Regions from separate parts of the Homo sapiens genome. Here regions 2 and 3 are each linked to region 1. The links come from fine-mapping of genetic effects on plasma protein levels. A gene starts in region 1. Each other region holds a variant in brackets. All regions are shown on one strand. Distances are from middle to middle.

Region 1 (7,713 bases):
CCACCGTGCCCGGCGGTTTTTGCTTGGTTTTCAATCTGTAGGCAGCCGTTTGCGGGTAACTGTGTCTGTCAGCTTCATGGTTATTATCAAGATGAGCGCTGGCTCATGCTTCAATCCCTCCTGCACTGGAGGGAGCCCATCTCCAGCCTCAGACCTGAAGCTCCAAAGGGTGATTCTTTATGAACTAGGCCACAGAGATTAGTGGCCAGACCAACAAACTGACCTTCCTCAGCGATTTCTTCCAAGCGAGACAGCAACTGCTCATAGGCACTGTTTTCTTCCGGGCCCTCCTGGGGGATGACATTGTAAGACAGATGAGTGCATGTATCCAGGGCCATGGCTGAAGGCCGGAACATGAAGGGGGGTTCCCATAGACCTCTCCCATTCCTCAGCTCTGAGAATGCTGAGGGAACATAAAATTGTAATGGTTGTTGCTTTTTGTTGTTGCTGTTGTTTTTTTTTTTAGAGACAGTGTCTCCCTCTTAAAATCCTATGTATTATTTCAAACTCTATGTACTCTTGCTGTGCGAACCAACAAGCTTGGTGGACTGGTTTTCAATGACAAGCTGGAGAGAGAGGGAGAGAGCCCACTTTACTTAGGATACTAGGCTCTCAGTGACCCGTGCCCTTCTGACGTTTGCAGTCTCACTCACTGCTGCCTCCGTACATACTCCCCACAGGAAACCATATATACACCTTTGTGTTGGTGTCACCTCTGCATTCACCTTCATGATTCTGTGTTTGGCTTTTCAGGTGAGGTCCTGACATGCCACTTCTTTTATTTATTATTCTTTTTTCTTATTTTGCTTATGAACCTAATGTTAAGAACATTATGAACCTAAGAGTATGAACATATTGACATGCTATGATGGAGGCATTTCTCTGAACTTTGTGCTGTGTGGCTGGCATTAAAGAATCAGTGAGTGTGGCTGGGCACGGTGGCTCACACTTGTAATCAGCACTTTGGTAGGCTGAGTCAGGCGGATCACTTGAGGCCAGGAGTTTGAGACCAGCCTGACCAACATGGTGAAACCCTGTCTACTAAAAATACAAAAAAAAATTAGCTGGGCATGGTGGCACACACCTGTAACCCCAGCTACTCAGGAAGCTGAGGCAGGAGAATCCCTTGAACCCGGGAGGCGGAAGTTGCAGTGACCCAAGATCACACCACTGCACTCCAGCCTGGGCGACAGAGAGACTGTCAAAAAAATAAATAAATAAATAAAAGTGAGTGAGTGAACCTAGCAGGCATCTCACCATCCCTTCCCTTTACTGGCCTCCTCTAATCATGGTGTATGTAGCCATTCCCTAAATAGGCCATATTCTGAGTCTTTGCACATTCTGTTTCCTCTGCAATGAACACCTCCTTTTCTTTTCTACCAGTGAAGGCTTTAAGTGTCACCTCCTCTGTGACCACCATCTTTACTATGTCCTTCCTATGTGTCTGTCATGTCAGCCTCCCCCACTGGCTGTGGGCTCCTTAGAGGCAAGGACCTACAGCTTCAGAATCCTTGTTGGGGGCTGGTGCCTGGTTCACAGTGGGTGTTAAATGAACAAACAGTGCGTGAATGAGTTTGTCAGCCAGGGGCCTGAGTGAGCTTGCTGGGATGGGGTCTCTGGCTCCACGATAGAGTCCGGGAGGAGCATGGGATGGGAAAGCGGGGAGTAGGGGGTGTCCAGGATCTGGTACCTCCAGAAAGGCGGCCAACACGGCCAGGCCTCCCGGGCGCCCCAAGGCCTCGTCAACTCTGGCAAAGGCGGTGCTGAGGTGAACCACGTGGATCTGAAAAGGACACGAGGGTAGGAGAGGGCCACGTCTCTGGCCCCGCTCCGCCCCGCTCCTTTGCCCCTTCTCGGCCAGCTCCGCGCTCACCTCGGCAGGGAAACGGTGGCCTTCCACAGTGTGCTCCGAGCCCGGACGACCTGCAGCCCCCCAGTGCAGATGCAGCTGCAGAGCCCGGTACTCCCGCCCGGGACCCAGAGCCATCTCTAGCCCAGGAGGCAGGGTCAGTTGCACTGCGTAGGGAGAGGCAAGTGAGCCGGCCCCGCCCGGTAGGGCCAGCCCAACCCCCGGGCAGGCACTGCCGCGACGGTTCCCTTCCCTGCGCCCCGCCCCATCCCCAAGTCTCGGCGGGGAGACCCCCTCACCACTGTGGCCATTGTTGCGCAGGCGCAGTTCTGGGAGCGGCGGGAGCTGGAAGCCCAGGAGTTCCAGGGGGCGCAGGGCCGGGCAGAAGGCGGCGAGCTGGGGGCGGATATCCACCGGGGACTGGAAGCGGCCCGCGCAGGCTGGGGACACCCGGGGCCAGGGCGGGTCGCCTGGGGTGGGAGAGTATAGTGAGGAAGTCTGACGCCTAGGTCAGGAACTTAGGGAACCCGGGTAGAAAAGGTGAGGGGGTGGGACGGTGGGCGGCGGGTGGGACGCCCGGGACCAGTGTTCAGGGACGGCTGTAGGGGAGATCCACAGAGCTGGGTTCCCAGATTGGGTCTGTGCAGCGGGTGGGTGTCTCACCTCCATAGCGCCAATGACTCTGGTCATCCCCTGTATAAATGAAAAGGATGAACCGCTCAAGCTTAGAGCCCCAATCCCTTCCTGGCGACCAAAACGATGTCACAAACGCAGATGCCTTACAGGAGCATTACGGGTAACAAATGCCTTAAGCGGGCCAGGTGCAAAGCACAGGAGACCGCACCCAAACTCAACACCGCAGCTGGGTGGGCCAAACAGCAATCCTACCAGCTTGCAATCATTGTCTTAGGGTCTGTAAAAGTGAGTGGCTGCTTCAGGCCAGGCGCTGTGGCTCACGCCTATAATCCCAGCACTTTGGGAGGCCAGGGTGGTTGGATCACCTGAGATCAGGAGTTCGAGACCAGCCTGACCAACATGGCGAAACCCCGTCTCTACTAAAAATACAAAAATTAGCCGGGCGTGGTGGCGCATGCCTGTAATCGCAGCTACTTGGCTAGAGGCTGAGGCAGGAGAATCACTTGAACCCGGGAGGTGGAGGTTGCAGTGAGCCGAGATCGCGCCATTGCACTCCAGCCTGGGCAACAAAAGTGAAAGTTTGTCTCAAAAAAAAAAAAAAAAAAAGTGAGTGGGCACTTCAGTCCTGAGTCCCAAATGAGTGAGTACACCATCTTTCCTTTCTCCCTTCTTTCTTCTCCCCACTCATCCCTCTGCCTTGTATGGTCTCCAACCCCTTTCCCCAAATTCCTGGCTTGGGAGTCAAGAAGCCACGTTTCTCTACCTGCTGTGTCCCTTCTTCCTAGGTCTCAATTTCCTCATTGTAGCCTAAGATGAGATGACTTCTACCAGCTCTTCTTGCTTGTCTCTGGTACCCACTTCACCTCCCAAGCTTTCCTTTTCTCTTCCCCTCAAACTCTCTGACTCTCCTTCTCCACCTATTTTTTTCCTCTGTCTGCACATTTTTTCTCTCATCTGCAGTTCTCATCCCTTTCTCTTCTCCAGCCTCCCCCTTCTCTCCCATCTCATCCAGCTCACCTCTCTCCTTTTGCACCCTTTTTATTTTCTCTCCACATCTGTCCCTTTCTACCTCCGAGAGTGGGGATGGGGATATTGGTATGGGACCTCTGGAAGGGCTTCTGTGGGGAGTACAGTCTCCCCTCCTTCCCTGAGTGAACAGAGCCTAGGCTGGGGTATGGGAGGGGAGTCATGAACCTCCTGGAACCTGGATTTGGAGATTGATGACCACTTACCTTCTTTGTCCCTGTGGGCATTATTCTGGGGTTCTTGAGGATCTCCAGGAGCCTCAACAGTAGGTAGATCCTCTAACTTCAGGGAGCCCTCTTCTTCTGATTTAGGCTTAACTTCAGGTAGATCCTCCTCTCCAGGTAGATCCTCCTCTCCAGGTAGATCCTCCTCTCCGGGTGGATCCTCCTCTCTGGGTGAATCCTCTTCACTGGGCAGATCCTCCTCGCCCAGTGGGTCATCTTCCCCAGAAGAGCCTCCTCCCAAGGGGGAATCCTCCTGCATCCGGGGCAACCTCTGGGGATGGACAGGCACCAGAAGCAGCAGTGACAGCAGCAGTTGCACAGTGAGGCCTGGAGCAGGGGCCGGGATCAACAGAGGGAGCCAGGGGCTGGGGCACAGGGGAGCCATGCGGCTGACTGTGGGGTGTCCCAGCACACGGTGTGTACGGGCTGTACGTGCATTGGAAACGAGAGCTGGGTGGGGGAGGAGCAAGCCTGGAGGGGAGCAGGCTGACTCACAGAGCGCCCTTTTGCAGAGATGGAGCCAAAGTCTCACAGGTTTGTCTGGCCCTGTGCCCTCTCCCCCATACCAAAGCTAGGATGGGGGTGGAGTGAGGGGCAGGTGTGTGCACAGGCAGAAGGTTATCGGGGCCATGGACTCAGCTTGGAACCCAAGGCACCACCTGGCACTATGCAGGCTCTCCCTGGCACCACCCAGCTGCTTGCCAGCCAGCCTCAGCTAACCCTGGCCTGCTTCCCAGCTCCAGGCACAGAAGGGGAAAGGCAGGGGAGCTGGGGCCCCCATGTCCTCTGGCTGAGAGGGAAAGCAGCTCATGTATACATCCCTGACTCCACCAGGAAGCAGGTAAAGAGGTAGGGCAGGCTGCTAGGGGAGCCCGAGGGTGAGTTAAGTAATGGGTATGTGGGAGACAAACTTGAGCTTGAATGAAAAGCAAGTGTATGTGTCAGAGGGGCTCTGATAGGTTTAACCTATATTTATTTTTCAACACATTACTCTCCTGCTCAAAAGCCTTCATTGGCTCCCCACTGCCTGCCACGATATGCACATTGTGTACTTCTGACTTCCAACTTCCTTCAAAACCTTGCCCAAGAGACCTTTCCATCTTGTCTCCTACTACTCTCCCTCATACTCTAGCCAAATTAAACTATTATTTTTTTCTCCAAACCTTTTACCACCTTTGTTAATCTAGTTCTTGCTCCCTGAAATGCTATTTACTATTGCATTCAACAAATATTTATTTAGTACTACCATAGGTCCAGCACTGGGCTATGGACTAGGGACATGGAAATGAATAAGACACGGTCCCTCATTTTGGGAGGCTGAGGTGGGTGGATTGCTTGAGTCCAGGAGTTCGAGACCAGCCCGGGCAACATGGCCAAACCCTGTCTCTACTAGAAATACAAAAAAATTAGCCAGGTGTAATGGCATGTGCCTGTAGTCCCAGCTACTCAGGAGGCTGAAATGGGATGATGGTTTGAGCCGAGGCGGTTGAGGCTGCAGTGAGCTGAGACTGTACCATTGCACTCTGGCCTGGGTGACAGAGCAAGACCCTGTCTCAAAAAAGAAAAACAAAAACAAAAACAAAAAACGCTACCTGCCCTGAGCAGCTCACAATCTAGTGAGTGAGGGCAAACCCTGTCAATATCATCATATTGAGGGAAGAGAGATGAATTCTGCTTTAGAAGATAATATAGAAGTAGGCAAATTTGATCATGTCCTTGAAGAAATACCAGTTCCATTGGTAAAAACAATAGGGAGAATGATATTCTGGGCAAAGGGAAGGCATAAAATATTATGAGCAGGAGAGTGACAGAATCCAGTTCTCATACTAGGTCACGTTGAGGGCTTGAGGGCTAGTATGGAGCACAGATTGCAGGGGAAGACTGGGTGCAAGGAGATGGGGCAGAAGAGTGTGAGGACACCAAGAATGGGCTTAGGCCTCCCAGTTTTTTTCTTTTCTTTTCTTTTTCTTTTCTTTTCTTTCTTTTTTTTTTTTTTTGAGACAGAGTCGCACTCTGCTACCCAGGCTGGAGTGAAGTGGCGCGATCTCGGCCCACTGCAATCTCCACCTCCCAGGTTCAAGCGATTCTCTTGCCTCAGCCTCCTGGGTAGCTGGGACTACAGGCACCTGCCACCACGCCCAGCTAATTTTTGTATTTTTGGTAGAGATTGGGGTTTTGCCATGTTGGCCAGGCTTGTCTTGAACTCCTGACCTCAGGTGATCTGCCCGCCTTGGCCTCCCAAAGTGCTGGGATTACAGGCTGGTTTTTTTTTCTAATTAATTATTTTTAAAATTTATTTTAGAGATGGGATCTCACTGTGTTGCCCAGGCTGGAGGGCGGTGGCTATTTACAGGTGCGACCCTGTTACTGATCAGCATTGAGTTTTGACCTGCTCCAATTTCCACCTGGGTCAGTTCAACCATCCTTAGGCAACCAGGTTGATGCAGAACTTAGTGCAGACACCTGACTGGTATACTACACTACAGCCCAGAAATCCTGGGATCAAGTGATCCTCCTGCCTCAGCCTCCCAAGTAGCTGGGACTACAGGCACACGCCATCACACCTGGCTAGTCTGCCCTTTTAACAATTTATTAAGCCTCCGCCAGTCCTTCAGGTGCTGTTCTAGGCCCTACAGATGCAGCATTGAATAGAGAATAGCTCTACTGTTTTGTAGCTCACATTCTAGTAAGGCTCCATTGGCTTAAACAAACTAAAAGAGAATAAGGCCATTTCAGGTCCATATCTAGGGCTAATATTCAGTAGGCACCCACCAATATGGTTGTGTAGGTTAATTAAATACATTAAGATATTTCTAATCCTGTTGGCATATAGCCATGGCCCCTAGCTCCAGGGTACCCCTGCTACCCTAGCTCTTCCTTAGGGACCCTCCAGACCTCCTGATCCCTTATCTAAAGAGGTATTCCCTGGCATAACAGAGTCCCCAGGAGCCCACTTGAGTGCCTCAGCCACCTTCAACTCTGATAGGTCAGTGCTTGTGCACTTGCTGCTGTGTCACAAATAGTTTTACTGGCCAGGTGCAGTGGCTCATGCCTCTAATACCAGCACTTTGGGAGGCCGAGGTGTGCAGATCACCTGAGGTCAGGAGTTCGAGACCAGCCTGGCCAACATGGTGAAACCCCGTCTCTACTAAAAATACAAAAATTAGCTGGGCATGGTGGCAGGCACCTGTAATCTCAGCTACTCAGGAGGCTGAGGCAGGAGAATCACTTGAACCTGGGAGGCAGAGGTTGCAGTGAGCCGAGATCGCGCCACTGCACTCCAGCCTGATCGACAGAGTGAGACTCTGTCTCAAAAACAAACAAACAGACAAAAATCGTCGCTAACATAGTGAAACCCCGTCTCTACTGAAAAAAAAAAAAAAAAAAAATTAGCCGGGCGTGGTGGCGGCCGCCTGTAGTCCCAGCTACTCAGGAGGCTGAGGCAGGAGAATGGCGTGAACCCAGGAGGCAAAGCTTGTAGTAAGCCAAGATCGCGCCACTGCACTCCAGCCTGGGCGACAAAGCGAGACTGTTTCAAAAAAAAAAAAAAATTTTACTGTCCTCCCTGTCTAATCTCTTCTGTTCTTTGAAACTCAGATGAAAGGCCACCTCCTTCAGGAAACTCCTTAACCAACCCTCTACCACTAGTCTGGAAAAGATCCCTGGCATCTTTGAGCCAACCCAGTTCTTTGCCTGCCCTCAATAATAACTTTGTCCACCGTCTAACTCATATAAGGGTGATAACTCATTTTATCTGCTCTAACGGCCTTCAGCTCCATAAGGGCAGGGTCCGTACTTGATTGAGTCAGTCTTTTATTCAACAGCCATTATTGAGCATTTTCTTTTTGCAGATTACCTTGCCAGATGCTTGAGAAATACCAAATTGACTAAGATATATTCTCTGCCCTCAAGGAGCTCATTGTCAATGACCTGTGCATGTCCACAACTATCCCATAAACATGACATAACTTTTTACAT
Region 2 (7,713 bases), 490 kb before region 1:
GTCACGGATTGTCTCAGCCATGGAGAATGAAGTATGAATCACATTGGAGGAGGTTATTACACAAAGAAAAAGATTTTATTGTCTTCTTAGTCAATATCCCTGGTGAAATTAGAGGCATAGCTTGAGACTGGTGACAGTGCAACACAGACCTTCAGGAGCTGCTTTGAGGACTGGCCTGCCCAGATGCCTGCTGTTAAGCCAGCAGCCCCCTCACTCCGGCCCCTGCCATCTTGACAGATGGAGCTGCCATGGTTTCAGGGACACTCAGCAGGGCATCTGGGTTGGTCCCTCCCACATGGACCTTGTAAAGTTGCTATTCAGGGGAACCTGGTATCGTTTCAGGCAAAACACAGAACCATATTAGCACTTCTAAGCCCCCTGCCCCGGCCGCCTCCCCGGAACATTTGGGCTTGTCGCACATTCCAGGAGGGAGCAGGAGCACAGCTGCAGCCACAGCTGCCAGGAACAGGCCTGGGCTCCCGCCCTGTGTGGGGGGAGGGCAGAGGCTGAGGGCTTCCTCTGGGGGCCCTGAGTAAGCTCACCCTCACCCCACCTCTCTGACTTCATCCATCCAAGGCCGCTTGGCCAAGAGCCCAGGCAGGGTGAGGGGCTGTCTCCCAGACCAGGCCTGGGCTGCCTAGCAGAGGTGGGGGAGGGGGAGCTTCAGGCCTAGCCCAACTCTCCAGAAACCAGGGGTAGCCTGCTGAGCTCTGAAATGCCAGAAGTTTAAGAAAAGAGGGAAGGGGGCAAGAGGTGGTGGTGGTAGTGGTACTTTGCTATTTAAAGGTAGAAGAATGCAAGGAAGTAAAACTTTTTTTCTCCATTTGTTGTTTGGCGACCCCATTGGAGAATTCCAGGAGGCATGCAGGATGACATCATGTTTTACAACTGAGAAATCTCAGTAATTCTGTAAAATGGAGTCCCTGCCTGCTCCATGTTCCTGATGGAAGCTGCTTTGTATTTATGTGCTTAAAGCTGTATTTTATGTCACATTTAAATGAGGGTTTAATAATCTTAATTATCTACCAAAAGTAGATTACGACGCATGAAGATCACATAAAATGAACTTCACTTCTCAGCATCACAAACATTTGGAATACAAAAAGTCCAGGGATGGATATTAGAAGTAAGAAAAGTACAAAAGAGGTTTGCTTAGAAATAACAAAAAATTAAAAAAAAAAAACGGATCCCCCCTCCCCCCAATCCAAATAATCGTGGTCTAGGTAACCATCGGGGTAAATGCTTCCTTTGCTCACTCCTGTAATAAGAATGAGCGCACACAGAACTGTATGTCCAAGTGTGTGTGCCAGAGACGCTCACATGCATCACACACACAAGCACATACACCCACAGGGACAGACGCACAGCCAGGTTGTGGTGGTTCTAGGCACTTCATATCCACGTTCTTAAGTCTGCCACCTTCCCATTACATTTAACAAGTTACTTCTTCGGCGGCAGGACGTTTTCTTCGAAGAAGCCCTCATTGACAACATTCCCCGCTGGGAAGTATCTGGCCACCACAAAGGAGGACCCGTCACTTGCGGACGCCTTCCCCACGCCCATCTTCTTGGTGTTCTTCCATACCATGGCCGTGAAGTGTCCTGTAGGGGAACGGGCAGAGGGAGAGGGACACGGCTGAATTAGCAGAGCCTGAAGAAGGATGTGGCAGGGGATTGTTGAACCCCTGTACCATCTTGCCAGGCTCAGGTCAGCATGGTCTTCACAGACCCCCTGCAGGGGAAGGAGAGAGAAAACACTCTGACTGCCTGACTTCTTTTTTTTTCCCCCAAGATGGAGTCTCGCTCTGTAACCCAGGCTGGAGTGCAGTGGCATGATCTTGGCTCACTGCAACCTCCACCTCCTGGGTTCGAGTGATTCTCCTGCCTCAGCCTCCCAAGTAGCTGGGACTACAGGTGCATGCCACCACGCCCAGCTAATTTTTTTGTATTTTTAGTAGAGATGAGGTTTCACCATGGTCTCGAACTCCTGACCTCAGGCGATCCACCTGCCTCAGTCTCCCAGTGCTGGGATTACAGGTGTGAGCCACTGTGCCTGGCCAGACTGCCTGAATTCTAAAGCAGGTCCTTTCTATCAGCCACACAGACCTTACCCACCTCACCACCTTCCAACAGTCTCCCAGAGATCACGACAAAGCCCAGTGGCCCCAACAATTAGGATGCCACTCTACTGCCTACTGCCTGTGTCTAACCCTGTCCCCAAGCTGTAATCTTGAAGCTCTCCAGTGATCCCCTTTTGTCTTCATCTTACTTGACACCTGAGGAACACTTCCTACTCTTCTCCTTTTCAAGGCACCCCTCCCCCTTTTGGTTTCTAGGATGCCACAGTCTCTTGCCATTCCTCCTGTCTCACTGCCTCCTCTTCCGCCTCCTCGCCCTCACTTATAGATATTGAAGGACCCACACTTCCCAGGGCTCAATCCTGGGCCCTTTTTTTTTTTTCCTCTAAGCTCTCTTTAGGGAATTTCATCTTTCCCTGGCTCCCAAATTTATTTCTCCAGCTCAAATCACTGCTCTGTGTTCCAGACATAACTAATTACTGGACATTTCCACATGGATGACTCACAGGCATCTCAGATTTAACCTTTCCAAACCTCACTCCCAGTTTTTGTCCCCCTAGATTTATTCCTCTCCCAGTCCTCCCATCTCCATCAATGGTACCTCCATGTGCACACTGCCAGGGGGAGTCTGCATCCCTCCTCTTCTTCCTTTTCCCCACAACAACCTAGTATTCAGTCTTGAAGAATCCAACTCTAAAATGCATCTCAGGTCCACCCACTCCCAAACCCTTGGTCCCAATTGCAAACTTTTCTCACATGGACCATTGCAATAGCCTCCTGACTGGTTCTATGGCATCCACCTTGGCCCCTCAAAATCATTTTCTTTTTCTTTTCTTTTTTTTTTGAGACGAGTCTCACCCTGTCACCCAGGCTGGAGTGCAGTGTCATGATCTCAGCTCACTGCAACCTCCACCTCCTTGGTTTAAGTGATCCTCCCACCTCAGCCTCCCAAGTAGCTGGGACTACAGGTGTGTGCCACCATGCCCAGCTATTTTTTTGTATTTTTAGTAGAGACAAGGTTTCACCATGTTGTCCAGGCTGGTGTTGAACTCCTGACCTCAGGTGCTCTGCCCACCTCGGCCTCCCAAACTGCTGAGATTACAGGCGTGAGCCTCATTTTCTACTTAGTATTCAGAGTGACCATTCTGAGATATAAATCATATCTATTTACTTCCCTGCTTAACAATCCTTCACTCGCTCCCCAATGCACTTAGAATGAAAGTGAATCCTTTGGTGCAGTGGCCTCCTCTCCATTCCTTGAACACACCAGAGTATGTCCCACCTCAGAACCCTTGCACATTTTTTTTCTTCTGTTTTCCTTCTTTCTTCTTCTCTTTTTTCTTCTCTCCCTCCTTCCCTTCCTCTTCTCTTTTTCTCTTCTCTTCCCTTCTTTCTGACAGGATCTCTGTCACCTAGGCTGGATGGAGTTCAGTGGCATGATCATAGCTTACTTCAGCTTCCACCTCCAGGGCTCAGGAGACCCTCCCACCTCAGCTTCCTGAGTAGCTGGGACCACAGGCACATGCCGCCACTGCCGAATCATTTTTCAAAAAGTATTTGTAAGGCCGGGCGCCGTGACTCACGCCTGCAATGCCAGCACTTCGAGAGGCCGAGGTGGGCGGATCATCTTAGGTTGGGAGTTGGAGACCAGCCTGACCAACATGGAGAAACCCCATCTCTACTAAAAATACAAAATTAGCCGGGCATGGTGGTGCATGCCTGTAATCCCAGCTAATCGGGAAGGCTGAGGCAGGAGAATTGCCTCGGTTTCCCAAAGTGCTGAGATTACAGGTATGATCCACCATGCCTGGCCAAGACACCCTTCTGATGACCAACAGCTTCTTGTCCCTTGGTCTTAGCCTAAATATCATTTGTTCAAAGAAGTCGTTTGCAAACACCCTTTTATTTATTTATTTATTTTTGAGACGGAGTCTCACCGTTGCCCAGACTGGAGTACAGTAGCGTGATCTCGGCTCACTGCAGCCTCCACCTCCCATGTTCAAGCAATTCT[C/T]CTGCCTCAGCCTTCCAAGTAGCTGGGATTACAGGTGCACGCCACTATGCCCGGCTAATTGTTGTATTTTTAGTAGAGATGGGTTTCACCATACTGGTCAGGCTGGTCTTGAACTCCTGACCTCAGGTGATTCACTCGCCTTGGCCCAGCCAAGTATTGGGATTACAGGTGTGAGCCACCATGCCCAGCCTGTAAACACCCTTTTATTTACCGACCATCTCCCTCCCAAGATATTCTTACCACACCATTTTTTCCCCTATGTACCATTCTTCCCATTTGTGTGATGCATTTGCTTGATTACTTGGTTACTGTTTGGCTCCTTCACCAGGCTATGTGTCCATATGGGCAGAGGCCAAGTTTGTTTTAATCACCAAAATGCACCCAGTACCTTGGCATAGCCTGGCACATGAAAAGTGTAAAATAAATGTTTGAAAGAATGAGTGGAACTGATGAATAAAAGTAATATAGAAGATCCATCTTGGACTCCAGTTCTGCCTTCACTAGAAGTGCAGCATTCTATGTTTTGAGCTTTTTGAGACTTCGACACATTACAGCCTCGTTCAAATCCTTCTGCTCTGAGCCAAACATCTCAGTTCCTTTTCAAGCTACTGCTCCACCCTCCAGACACCACTAGGTCTTGCTGAGGCCTCTTAGCATCAGTCTCCCATTTCTCAGGCTTCCTGTCCTTCACTCGCTTGTCCTTTCAAGCTACGAATATAGCTTAGCTTCCAAATCTCCTCCCATTTGGGAGTCAAAGAGTTGATGCTGTAATGCATTCTTTGCTCAACGATCATAAATTCTTTTTTTTTTGAGACAGAGTCTCTCTCTGTTGTCTAGGCTGGAGTGCAGTGGCGCGATCGTAGCTCACTGCAACCTCTGCCTCCTGTGTTCAAGTGATTCTCATGCCTCAGCCTCCTGAGTAGCTGGGACTACAGGTGAGCACCATCACGCCCAGCTAATTTTTGTATCTTTAGTAGAGATGGGGTTTCACCATGTTGGCCAGGCTGGTCTCAAACTCCTGACCTCAAGTGATCTGCCTGCCTCAGCCTCCCAAAGTGTTGGGATTACGGGCGTGAGCCACCATGCCTGGCCTAAATTCTTATTTCTTGGGGAGTAGAGGCAGATGTTCATCCCTTCCATCTTTATGGTTTAGCATTTACAGAGATCAATGAGACATTTATTTTCTGTGTCACAGGATGGCATTCATTTGCTAAAGCAACACTGAAGAGATTGTTCCCTCCTAAATATCTGGCTTATGATTGGGCAAGCTATGTGAGGGCACGTGCCACATCTGTTTTATTGATCACCATATACCTAGTGTTTAGCACTGGGCCTGGCACATAGTAGATGCTCAATAAACATTTGATGAGGAAAGGAAGAAACGGAGGGAGGGAGGAGGAAAGTCATGATCAGAGTATCTAAGATTCCCATAGGGTGGTTAAGAAAGAAAAAAGGGCAACCACTTCACACTCAGCAGGATGGTTACTATGAAAAACAGAAACAAAAATAATAGAACATAACAAGTTTTGGCAAGGAAGTGGAGAAATTGGAACTTCTGTGCACTGCTGATGGGAATGTAAAATGGCACAGCTGCTCTGGAAGACAGTATGGCAGTTCCTCAAAAAATTAAACAGAATTGCAATGACTCAGCAATTCCACTTCTAGGTATATACCCAAAAGTACTGAAAGCAGGGATTCAGATATTTATACGCCCATGCTCCTAGCAGAGAGGTTGAAAGATTGGCCCAAAGTCACATAGCCCGGTCGGGCGCAGTGGCTCACGCCTGTAATCCCAGCACTTTGGGAGGTTGAGGTGGGCGGATCACTTGAGGTCAGGAGTTCAAGACCACCCTGGCCAATGTGATGAAACCCCGTCTCTACTAAAAATAGAAAAATTAGCCAGGTGTGGTGGCACACGCCTGTAATCCTAGCTACTGGGGAGGCTGAGGAAAGAGAATTGCTTGAACCTGGGAGGCAGAGGTTGCAATGAGCCGAGACTGTGCCATTGCACTCCAGCCTGGGTAACAGAGTGAGACTCCATCTCGAAAAAACAAAAAACAAAAAAAAAACCCACAAAGACACACAGCCCAAGTGTCCATCAACAAGTGAAAGGATAAGCAAAATGTGGGAGATATATATGTATATATGTGTATATATATATGTGTGTGTGTGTGTGTGTGTGTGTGTGTGTTTAACAGATATTATTCAGCTTTAAAAAGAAATTCTGAGGCCGGGCGTAGTGGCTCATGCCTGTAATCCTAGCACTTTGGGAAGCTAAGGCGGGTGGATCACCTGGGGTCAGGAGTTTGAGACTAGCCGGGCCAATGTGGTGAAACCCCGTCTCTACTAAAAATATAAAAATTAGCTGGTCATGGTGGTGGGTGCCTGTAACCCCAGCTACTTGGGAGGCTGAGGCAGGAGAGTCGCTTGAACCTGGGAGGCAGAGGTTGCAGTGAGCCAAGACTACACCACTGCACTCCAGCCTGGGCGACAGAATGAGACTCCATCTCAAAAAAATAAAAAATAAAAAAATAAAAATAAAAAAGAGACTGGGTGTGGTGGATCATGCCTGTATTCTCAGCACTTTGAGAGGCCAAGGTGGGCAGATCAAGAGGTCAGGAGTTCGAGACCAGCCTGGCCAACATAGTGAAACCCCATCTCTACTAAAAATACAAAAAAAAAAAAAAAAAATTAGCTGGGCATGATGGCGGGTGCCTATAATCCCAGCTACTCAGGAGGCTGAGGCAGGAGAATCGCTTGAACTCGGGAGGCAGAGGTTACAGTGAGCCAAGATCACGCCATTGCACTCCAGCCCGGGCAACAGTGTGAGACTCCGTCTCAAATAAAATATAATAAAATAAAATAAATTAAAATAAAAAGGAATTCTGACACGTGCTCTAATAAGGGTAAACCTTGAAAACATGATGCTAAGTGAAATAAGCCAGACACAAATGGGCAAATATTGTATGATTCCATTTATATGAGGTAGCTAGAATAGTTAAAACCAAAAGTAGAACAATGGTTGGGGTGGGGTGGAGATGGTTTCAGGATGAAACTGTTCCACCTCAGATCATCAGGCATTAGATTTTCATAAGGAGCATGCAACCTAGATCCCTTGCGTGAGGAATTCATAATAGGGTTCATGCTCCTATGAGAATCTAACGCCACTGCTGATCTGACAGGAGGCGGAGCTCAGGCAGTAATCTTACTCACCCAGGCTCACCTCCTGCTGTGCGGCCCAGTTCTTAACAGGCCATGGGCCCATACAGGTCCACTGCCCAGGAGTTGGGGTCCCCTGGTCTAAGGGGTACTGAGTTTTAATCTGTGAAGATGAAAAGAATTCTAGAGATGGATGGTGGCGATGATTGCATAACAGTGTAAATGTGTTTAATCCCACTGAACTGTATACCTAAAATGGTTAAAATGGTAAATTTTCAGTTATATGTGCTTTACTACAATTTCTTTTTTTTTTTTTTTTTTTTTTTTTTTAGACATGGCTTCACTCTGTTGTCCAGGCTGGAGTGCCGTGGTGCAATCATGGTTCACTGCAACCTCCAACTCCTTGACTCAAGCAATCCTCCCACGTCAGCCTCCTGTAACCAGGACCACAGGCACGTGCCACTAC
Region 3 (7,713 bases), 1.9 Mb after region 1:
GTTTCACCATGTTGGTCAGGCTGATCTCAAACTCCTGACCTCAAGTGATCCACCTGCCTCGGCCTCCCAAAGTGCTGGGATTACAGGCGTGAGCCACTGTGCCCAGCCTGCTTTTTTTTTAAACCCTCCTTTGAACATAAAAAATTTACATTTTTGTTTAATGTTTAACACAGGTCCCTTTCAATATCAAGCTCGTTATACTTCATTTTCCTAGGCAAAGGTGCAGAAAAACCAGCTTTGCAAATGTATGTCAAAATTGCACACTGACTAACCGGCTTCCCTCCTCCCTGCCCTGCCTCATTTTTCTCAAAAGCAGTGCCTGAAATAAAGGCAGAGTCCTTGTCTGCCTCTGTGTACTTGATACCGGCTTGTCAAGACCCACCCTTCCCTTTCACCTCGTCTAAAATTCACACCAGTGGACAGCAGGGCCTGCAGCATGTCTGTAGAAATTTATTTAAACTTATGTATGATTCATAGAAGACTGAGTACTTTGATTTGATGGGGATGGGCTATATTTCTTCCATTAACAAATTAATGGATTAGTTCATTAGATTAGCTACATTATGGAACACGTGGAGGAGATGGAGGATGAGTCACTTTTAGTTACAGGAGGAACAAGGTAATAAATAACTTCAAGTAGAACAATAAAAATTTGGACTTCTAAATAATTTGGATAACCCATTTTCCAAATATAGGCTAAGCCCCTGCTGTGGTTTAGCATTAAAAACATTTAAATAAAATAAATGTTAAATAAAAAAATACTTAAGGAATGTTTCCTAATATACACAACTGGTGTGTGCAATATACAATAAAACCTTTCAATCTAAGGACAAACTTACGAATAGGAAAACAAATATCAGATAATGCTTTTAGGCCAGGTGCAGTGGCTCACACCTGTAATCCCAGCACTTTGGAAGGCTGAGGTAGGAAGATTGCTTGAGCCCAGGAGTTCAAGATCAGTCTGGGCAACATAGTGAGACCCCTGTCTCTACTAAAAATAAATTAGCTGGGCATGGAAGGGCACGCCGTAGTCCAAGCTACTCGGGAGGCTGAGATGGGAGGATTGCTTGAGCCTGTGAGGTTGAGGCTGCAGTGAGCCGTGATCGCACCGCTGACACTCCGTGTCACTCCACCGCTGGGTGACAGAGTGAGACCCTGTCTCCAAAGGAAAAAAATAAGTGCTTTCACAAAGGCAAATTCCCCAACTTTCTTATTTCAATATATTTCCTCTTTTTTTAATTTCACATGAGATATGATGGGAGTGTGAGGGGAGGATTGAATGTTTTGGACAAGTAGTAACTTTGCCTTTCACTTTCTGCTGTGCTGTCTCAGGTCTTCCCCATAGATGCATAGCTTTTTCAGTCAGCTAGGGATGTGTGAAGACCTCATCTCAACACTTCCATGACTCTCATTTCTAGAATCTCCCTATTAAATCCCTGGCTGATTTGCTGCTATGGCCTAGTATTAAAAATAGCAACCAAGCTGGCAACCAAGAAGACTGGAGGTTTGGGCAACTGTTCCTTTTTATTTCATATCTAGGGAGATCATTGGATCCTTCCCTCCCTCCCTCTCTCCTTCCTTCTCTCTCTCTCTCTCTCATTTGAGATAAGTGAAATAGAAGATAAGATAGAAGGAGTCAGAAAGAGAAAATGGAGGCAAGAGTAAGGGAGAATGAGGAGCAAGGAAACCAGAGGGAAGCAGAGGCACAGAAGAAGAGAGAGGAAATGGTGCCAAGGAAAGGAGAAATTATGGTTGATGCCATTTGGCTGTAGTTAAAAGTAAAACTTGATACGGTGCTTTAAAAAAACAAAGCAGTAATTTTCCCTTATTTTAGAGGGGGGAAAGCAGGAAATGGTGAAAGAAGAGATGTCCAGATGAATGGAAGGATCAGAAAAAGGGGGAAGGTGAATTTTGTTTTTCTCCTCGAGTGCCTAGGCTTGGCAACCAGCACTCTCTAACATTACGTTGCTCCCACAGGTGGAGAGTTAAAGCAAATGTCTCCCAGTTTGTGGCGGCAGACACAAAATATATAGATCCCAAATACCCCAGAGAGCTTGGGCCTCTACTCAAGTTCCAACCACGTGTTTGAATGAATAAATTATATTTTATCTTTACTATGAGATGCTATATAACCATTAAAAAGAATGAATTGGAGGTATCCCAGCTGTCCTAGAAGGTTTTTCATGAGATGTTGGCGAGACAAGCAAGAAGAGCGACAAGAGCGAAACTCCGTCTCACAAAAAAATTAAAATAAAATAAAATTAGTATAATTAAAATTCTTTGTATCATTAAAATTCAGGCAACTCAGGCTCTGTCACAGTACAAGGTTAAGCCATTAGGTCATTCTTGAGTCCAATGGCTCACAACGGGGACTGGTGGTGGCACTCTGGCTTCTCTGAGTGGAGACCAGGGACACTGCTGAACATCCTCCAAAGCACAGGATGGCCCCACAGCCAAGACTCTTGTGGCCCAGAGTATCAGCAATGTCGAGCCTGTGAGATCCTGCTCTCACCCAGGCCTGCTTCCCAAAGCCCTTTAAGTCCTGAAGGGAGAAGACAGCAGGCTGCCTTCTTTCTGTTATTTAAATCCCACTTAACTCCCTCTTAGAGCATGTTCTTCTCCCTTTAAGACTAGCCTGGGGGCTGCGCGCGGTGGCTTACGCCTGTAATCCCAGCACATTGGGAGGCTGAGGTGGGTGGATCACCTGAGGTCAGGAATTTGAGACCAGGCTGGCCAACATGGTGAAACCCCATCTCTACTAAAAATGCAAAAATGAGCTGGGCATGGTGGCGGGCACCTGTAGTCCCAGCTAATTGGGAGGCTGAGGCATGAGAATAGCTTGAACCCAGGAGGCAGAGGTTACAGTGAGCTGAGATTGAGCCACTGCACTATAGCCTGGGTGATAAAGCAAGATTTAGTTTCAAAAAAAAAAAAAAAAGAAAAGAAAGAAAGAAACTAGCCTGGATAACATGGTGAAACTCCATTTCTACCAAAAAAACAAAAAAACAAAAAGAAAAGAAAAGAAAAGAAAAAAAATTAGCTGGGTGTGGTGGTGCATGCCTGTAGTCCCAGCTACTCAGGAGGTTGAGGCTGCAGTGAGCCATGATTATGTCACTGCACTCCAGCCTGGGCAACAGAAGAGACCCTGTCTCAAAAAAAAAAAAAACAAAAAAACAAAAAAACAAAACCCAGTGCAGTGGCTCATGCCTGTAATCCCAGCACTTTGGGAGGCTGAGGCGGGCGGATTGCCTGAGGTCAAGAGTTCAAGACCAGCCTGGCCAACATAGTGAAACCCTGTCTGTTACTAAAAATACAAAAATCAGCCGGGCGTGGTGGTGGGCACCTGTAATCCCAGCTACTCAGGAGGCTGAGGCAGGAGAAACTCTTGAACCCAGTAGGCAGAGGTTGCAGTGAGCTGAGATCGCGCCACTGCACTCCAGCACTCCAGCCTGGGAGACAGAGCAAGACTCCATCTCAAAACATAAAAAAAAAAAAAGGAAAAGAAACCCCTCACTCTCACCAGTCTTCTCCTTCCCCAGCCCCATCTACATGTGGTGGAGACCAGCCAAGGCTGGTCTTAAAGGGAGAAGAACATGCTCTAAGAGGGAGTAAGTGGGATTTCAATAACAAAGAAAGAAGGCAGCCTGTTCTCTTCTCTCTTCAGGACTAAAGGGCTTTGGGAAGCAGGCCTGGGTGAGAGCAGGATCTCACAGCCTCGGCATTGCTGATACTCTGGGCCACAGGGGTCTTTGTTGTGGGGCTGTCCTGTGCATTGCAGGGTGTCCAGCAGGCAGCCACCAGTCATTTTATATTTCTACAGGTTTGCCTTTCAATTCATAAATTGAATTATATAATATGTGGCCTTTTGTGACTGGCCCTTTCTGTTGGCACGATATTTCCCAGGTTTCTCCATGTTGTAAGCATGAATCAGCACTGAGTCCTTTTGATGGCTGAATGGTACTTCGTTGTGTGGGTACACCACATATACTGGTTGCTAGGGCTGGTAAGACAGTACCACACACTGGGCAGATTAAACAATCATTTACATTCTCAGTTCTGGAGGCCTCTCTTCTT[G/A]GCTTGGAGGTGGCCATCTTCTCTCAGTGTCCTCACATAGTCATCCTCTTGTGTGTGTCTGTGTTCTTATGAGGACATTACTCATACTGCATTTGGGCCCCACCCTAATGATCTCATTTTAATTTAATTACTTCTTTAAAGATCTTATCTCAAAAGAGTCACATCCTGAGGTACTGGGAGATAAGACTTCAACATTTGAATTTGGAGAGAGCATACTCAGCCCATAACACCCTGTCCTCTGCTCCCTGAAAATCCATGTCCTTCTCATATGCAAAATACACTCATCCCCATCCCAACAGTGCCAGAAGTCTTAACCCAGACCAGCATCAACTGTAAGTCCAAAATCTCATGTAAGTATCGTCTAAACCAGGTATGGGTGAGATTTGAGGTATGGTTCATCCTGAGGCAAAATTCTTCTCCAGCTGTGAACCTTTATGACCAGACAAGAAATTATCTGCTTCCCAAACAGGACAGGCAGAGTATAGACATTTCTAGTTTAAAAGTGGGACATTGGAAAGAAGAAAGTGGTCATGGATCTCCTGTCCTGGAACCTGGTAGGGCAAATTCCGTTCAATTTTTTTTTTTTTTTGAGACAGTTTCATTTCACCCTTGTCGCCCAGGCTGGAGTGCAGTGGCACGATCTTGGCTCACTCCAACCTCTGCCTCCTGGGTTCAAGTGATTCTCCTGCCTCAGCCTCCCAAGTAGCTGGGATTACAGGCATGAGCCACCATGCAAGGCTATTTATATGAGACAGGATTTCACCATGTTGCCCAGTCTGGTCTCCAACTCCTGATCCACCTGCCTCAGCTTCCCAAAGTGTTGGGATTACAGGCGTGAGCCACCGCGCCCAGCCCAATTCCAAGGCTTGAGAATAATCCTTTTTGGCTCAGTGTTCTGTTGTCTGGGTCCACAGGGTGGCCCTGCCTTCCAGGGCCATCACCCTGATTCCTCTACCCTAAATGGTGGCCCCACCCCTTGGTCCTGGGCTGGGGCATCCTGGCCTGCTGAAACCAAGGAAATGGCACCAGTCCTGCCCCTGAATCTGTGTGCCCTGGGCCCAAGGTGGCAGTAGCAACCTGGCAGATCTCTGAACTAGCTTCAGGGTCATTCTTCTCTTTCCTTTAAGGATAACTCATGATCATAGCCATATCGCTGTACTGGCTGGTCCTGCAGAATTCCAGAAGTCTGAGAATCTTCCTTCATTTCTTCCTATTTCTGTCTCCTTTGGTCCAAACTGGCAATGTCTGCTGGTATAAATTCTGAAAAACCTTGTTGGCCTCCTATGCAATCCATAGGGGGCGAGGCCATTTGACAAGAGGGCCCTCCACAGAAGTTCCTGGGAAAACCACATCTCTGTTCCCGACTTGCTGAGTTGGTTGACTGTATCCATGCATCACATTGGCCATCTTTTCAGATGGGGGTTCAGCCACACCCTTGGTCTTTTCTCCAGAATGTGCTTTCTCATTTTTTGTAGAATGGATAGACTGAGAGTTTTCCAAAAGTTTTGGTTCCTTTTTTTCTAAAAATTCCTTTTTTAGTTTATCTCTCTCCTTTCATATTTTACTATGAGCAGCAAGAAGAAATCAGGCCACCTTCAGTATTTTGCTTAGAAATCTCCTCAGCTAAATATCCAAGTTCATCATTTATAAGTTCTGCTTTCCATGAAACATGAGAATCCAATTCAACAAATTTCTTTGCCACTGTATAACAAGGTCCATCTTTCTTCTAGTTTCTAATACCATGTTCTCATTTCTGTCCAAGTTCTCACCAGAAGTACCTTTAACATTCATATTTCAACCAACATGCTGTTCCTGATGATACATGTATTCTCTAAGATGATAGACGCATTTTCTTTTCCTTTTTTATTTTTATTTTTTTGTGGAGACGGAGTTTCTCTCTGTCACCCAGGCTGGAGTGCAGTGGCATGATCTTGGCTCACTGCAACCTCTGCCCCCCGGGCTCAAGCAATTATCCTGCCTCAGCTCCCCGAGTAGCTGGGACTACAGGTGCATGCCACCACACCTGGCTAAGTTTTGTATTTTAGTAGAGATGGGGTTTCACCATGTTGGCCAGGCTGGTCTCAAACTCCTGACCTCAGGTGATCCACCTGTCTTGGCCTCCCAGAGTGCTGGGATTACAGGTGTGAGCCACGGTGCCCAGCTGATAGGTGCTTTCTCTACAGCTCTGTTCTTTCTTTCTCAGTCCTCACTGGAATCACCTTCAATGTCCACATTTCTGTTGTTGTTTTTTTTTTTCCTTTGAGTCTCGCTCTATTGCCCAGGCTGGAGTGCTGCGGTGGTGCTATCTCAGCTCACTGCAACCTCTGCCTCTCAGGTTCAAGCAATTCTTCTGCCTCAGCCTCCTGAGTAGCTGGGATTACAGGCACATGCCACCACGCCTGGCTAATTTTTGTATTTTTAGTAGAGACGGGGTTTCACCATGTTGGCCAGGCTGGTCTTGAACTCCTGACCTCAAGTTATCCACCCGCCTCAGCCTCCCAAAGTGCTGGGATTACAGGCGTGAGCCACAGCGCCCAGCTAATGTCCACATTTCTATCAACAGTCTCTTTAAGGCAATTTAGGCCTTTTCCAACATGCACCTCCAAACTCTTCCAGCCCTTACTCACTGTTTAGTTCCAAAGCCACGTCTGCTCACCAGCACCCTATTTCTTGGTACCCAAATCTGTACTGGTTGCCAGGGCTGCTGTAACAAAGGCCCACAGGCTGGGGGACTTAAACCACAGCCATTTATCTTCTAACAGTTCTGGAAGCTGGAAGTCTGAGACCAATGCGTTGGCAGAATGGGTTTCTTCTGAGGCCTCTCTCCTGGGCTTGCAGATGACCGCTTTCACCCTGTGTCTTCAGATGGTCTTCTTTCTGTGTGTGTCTGTGTCTAAAGTTCCTTTTTTTTTCAGACAGAGGTTCGCTCTTGTTGCCCAGGCTGGAGTGCAGTGGCACAATCTTGGCTCACTGCAACCTCTGCCTCCTGGGTTCAAGTGATTCTCCTGCCTCAGCCTCCTGAGTAGCTGGGATTACAGGTGTCTGCAACCACGCCTGGCTAATTTTTTGTATTTTTAGTAGAGACGGGGTTTCACCATGTTGGCCAGGCTGGTCTGGAACTCCTGAGCTCAGGTGATCCACCCGCCTTGGCCTCCCAAAGTGCTGGGATTACGGATGTGAGTCACCGCGCCCGGCCCTAAAGTTCCTCTTAAAGGATATCAGTCATATTGGATTACTGTCCTAATGACCTCATTTTAACTTGATTACTTCTTTAAAGACCCTGTCTCCAAACACAGGCATATTCTGAGGCACTGGAGGTGAGGACTTCATCACATACACTTGGAGGTGGGGGAGACAAAATTCTGCCCATAATGCCATATGTTATTTATCCATTCATCAATTCACACTTACATTTCCCTTTATTTTTTACTTTTTCTGTTTATTTTTTGAGACAGAGTCTCCCTCTGTCGGGCCAGGCTGGTCTCGAACTCCTGACCTCAGGTGATCCACCTGCCTGGGCCTCCCAAATTGCTGGGATTACAGGTGTGAGCCACCAGGCCTGGCCAATTAACACATTTCCTTTTATAGATTTAATTACTAAATCACTGTGAAAAATAACTCTCAGGTGTATAACAAGCT

Direction of the effects. Positions count from the first base shown, and alleles are read on the strand shown. Strength reflects both the effect of a copy and how common the allele is.
With allele T in place of C in region 2, the plasma level of the protein whose gene starts at base 4,152 in region 1 is lower (weak association).
With allele A in place of G in region 3, the plasma level of the protein whose gene starts at base 4,152 in region 1 is lower (weak association).

Evidence for each region. PIP is the chance, under the fine-mapping model, that this variant and not a neighbour inherited with it causes the effect. Protein levels are from antibody-based Olink assays in UK Biobank. Linkage for the fine-mapping came from a reference panel and not from the study's own genotypes, which makes the PIPs less certain.
Region 2: its variant is fine-mapped to the plasma level of the CA9 protein (UK Biobank, PIP above 0.99).
Region 3: its variant is fine-mapped to the plasma level of the CA9 protein (UK Biobank, PIP above 0.99).

Annotation. Positions count from the first base shown.
Region 1 is chr9:35,670,367-35,678,079 of GRCh38, reverse strand. CA9 (carbonic anhydrase 9) reads right to left here and starts at 4,152. Exons shown (of 11, transcript NM_001216.3): 1 at 3,718-4,152; 2 at 2,513-2,542; 3 at 2,149-2,319; 4 at 1,874-2,016; 5 at 1,691-1,783; 6 at 224-290. The coding sequence starts at 4,120. It also overlaps the pseudogene RN7SL22P.
Region 2 is chr9:36,156,250-36,163,962 of GRCh38, reverse strand. GLIPR2 (GLI pathogenesis related 2) reads right to left here. Exons shown (of 5, transcript NM_022343.4): 5 at 57-1,601. The coding sequence ends at 1,441. Among named protein-coding and RNA genes, the nearest start is that of CCIN, 9.3 kb to the left of the region's middle. RefSeq lists enhancers at 1,051-1,631, 1,632-2,212. The variant C/T (reference allele first, on the strand shown) is at 4,089.
Region 3 is chr9:33,767,099-33,774,811 of GRCh38, reverse strand. All of the region lies in intron 3 of UBE2R2-AS1 (UBE2R2 antisense RNA 1), which reads left to right. It also overlaps a transcript of PRSS3 not described here. Among named protein-coding and RNA genes, the nearest start is that of PRSS3, 25 kb to the left of the region's middle. The variant G/A (reference allele first, on the strand shown) is at 4,075.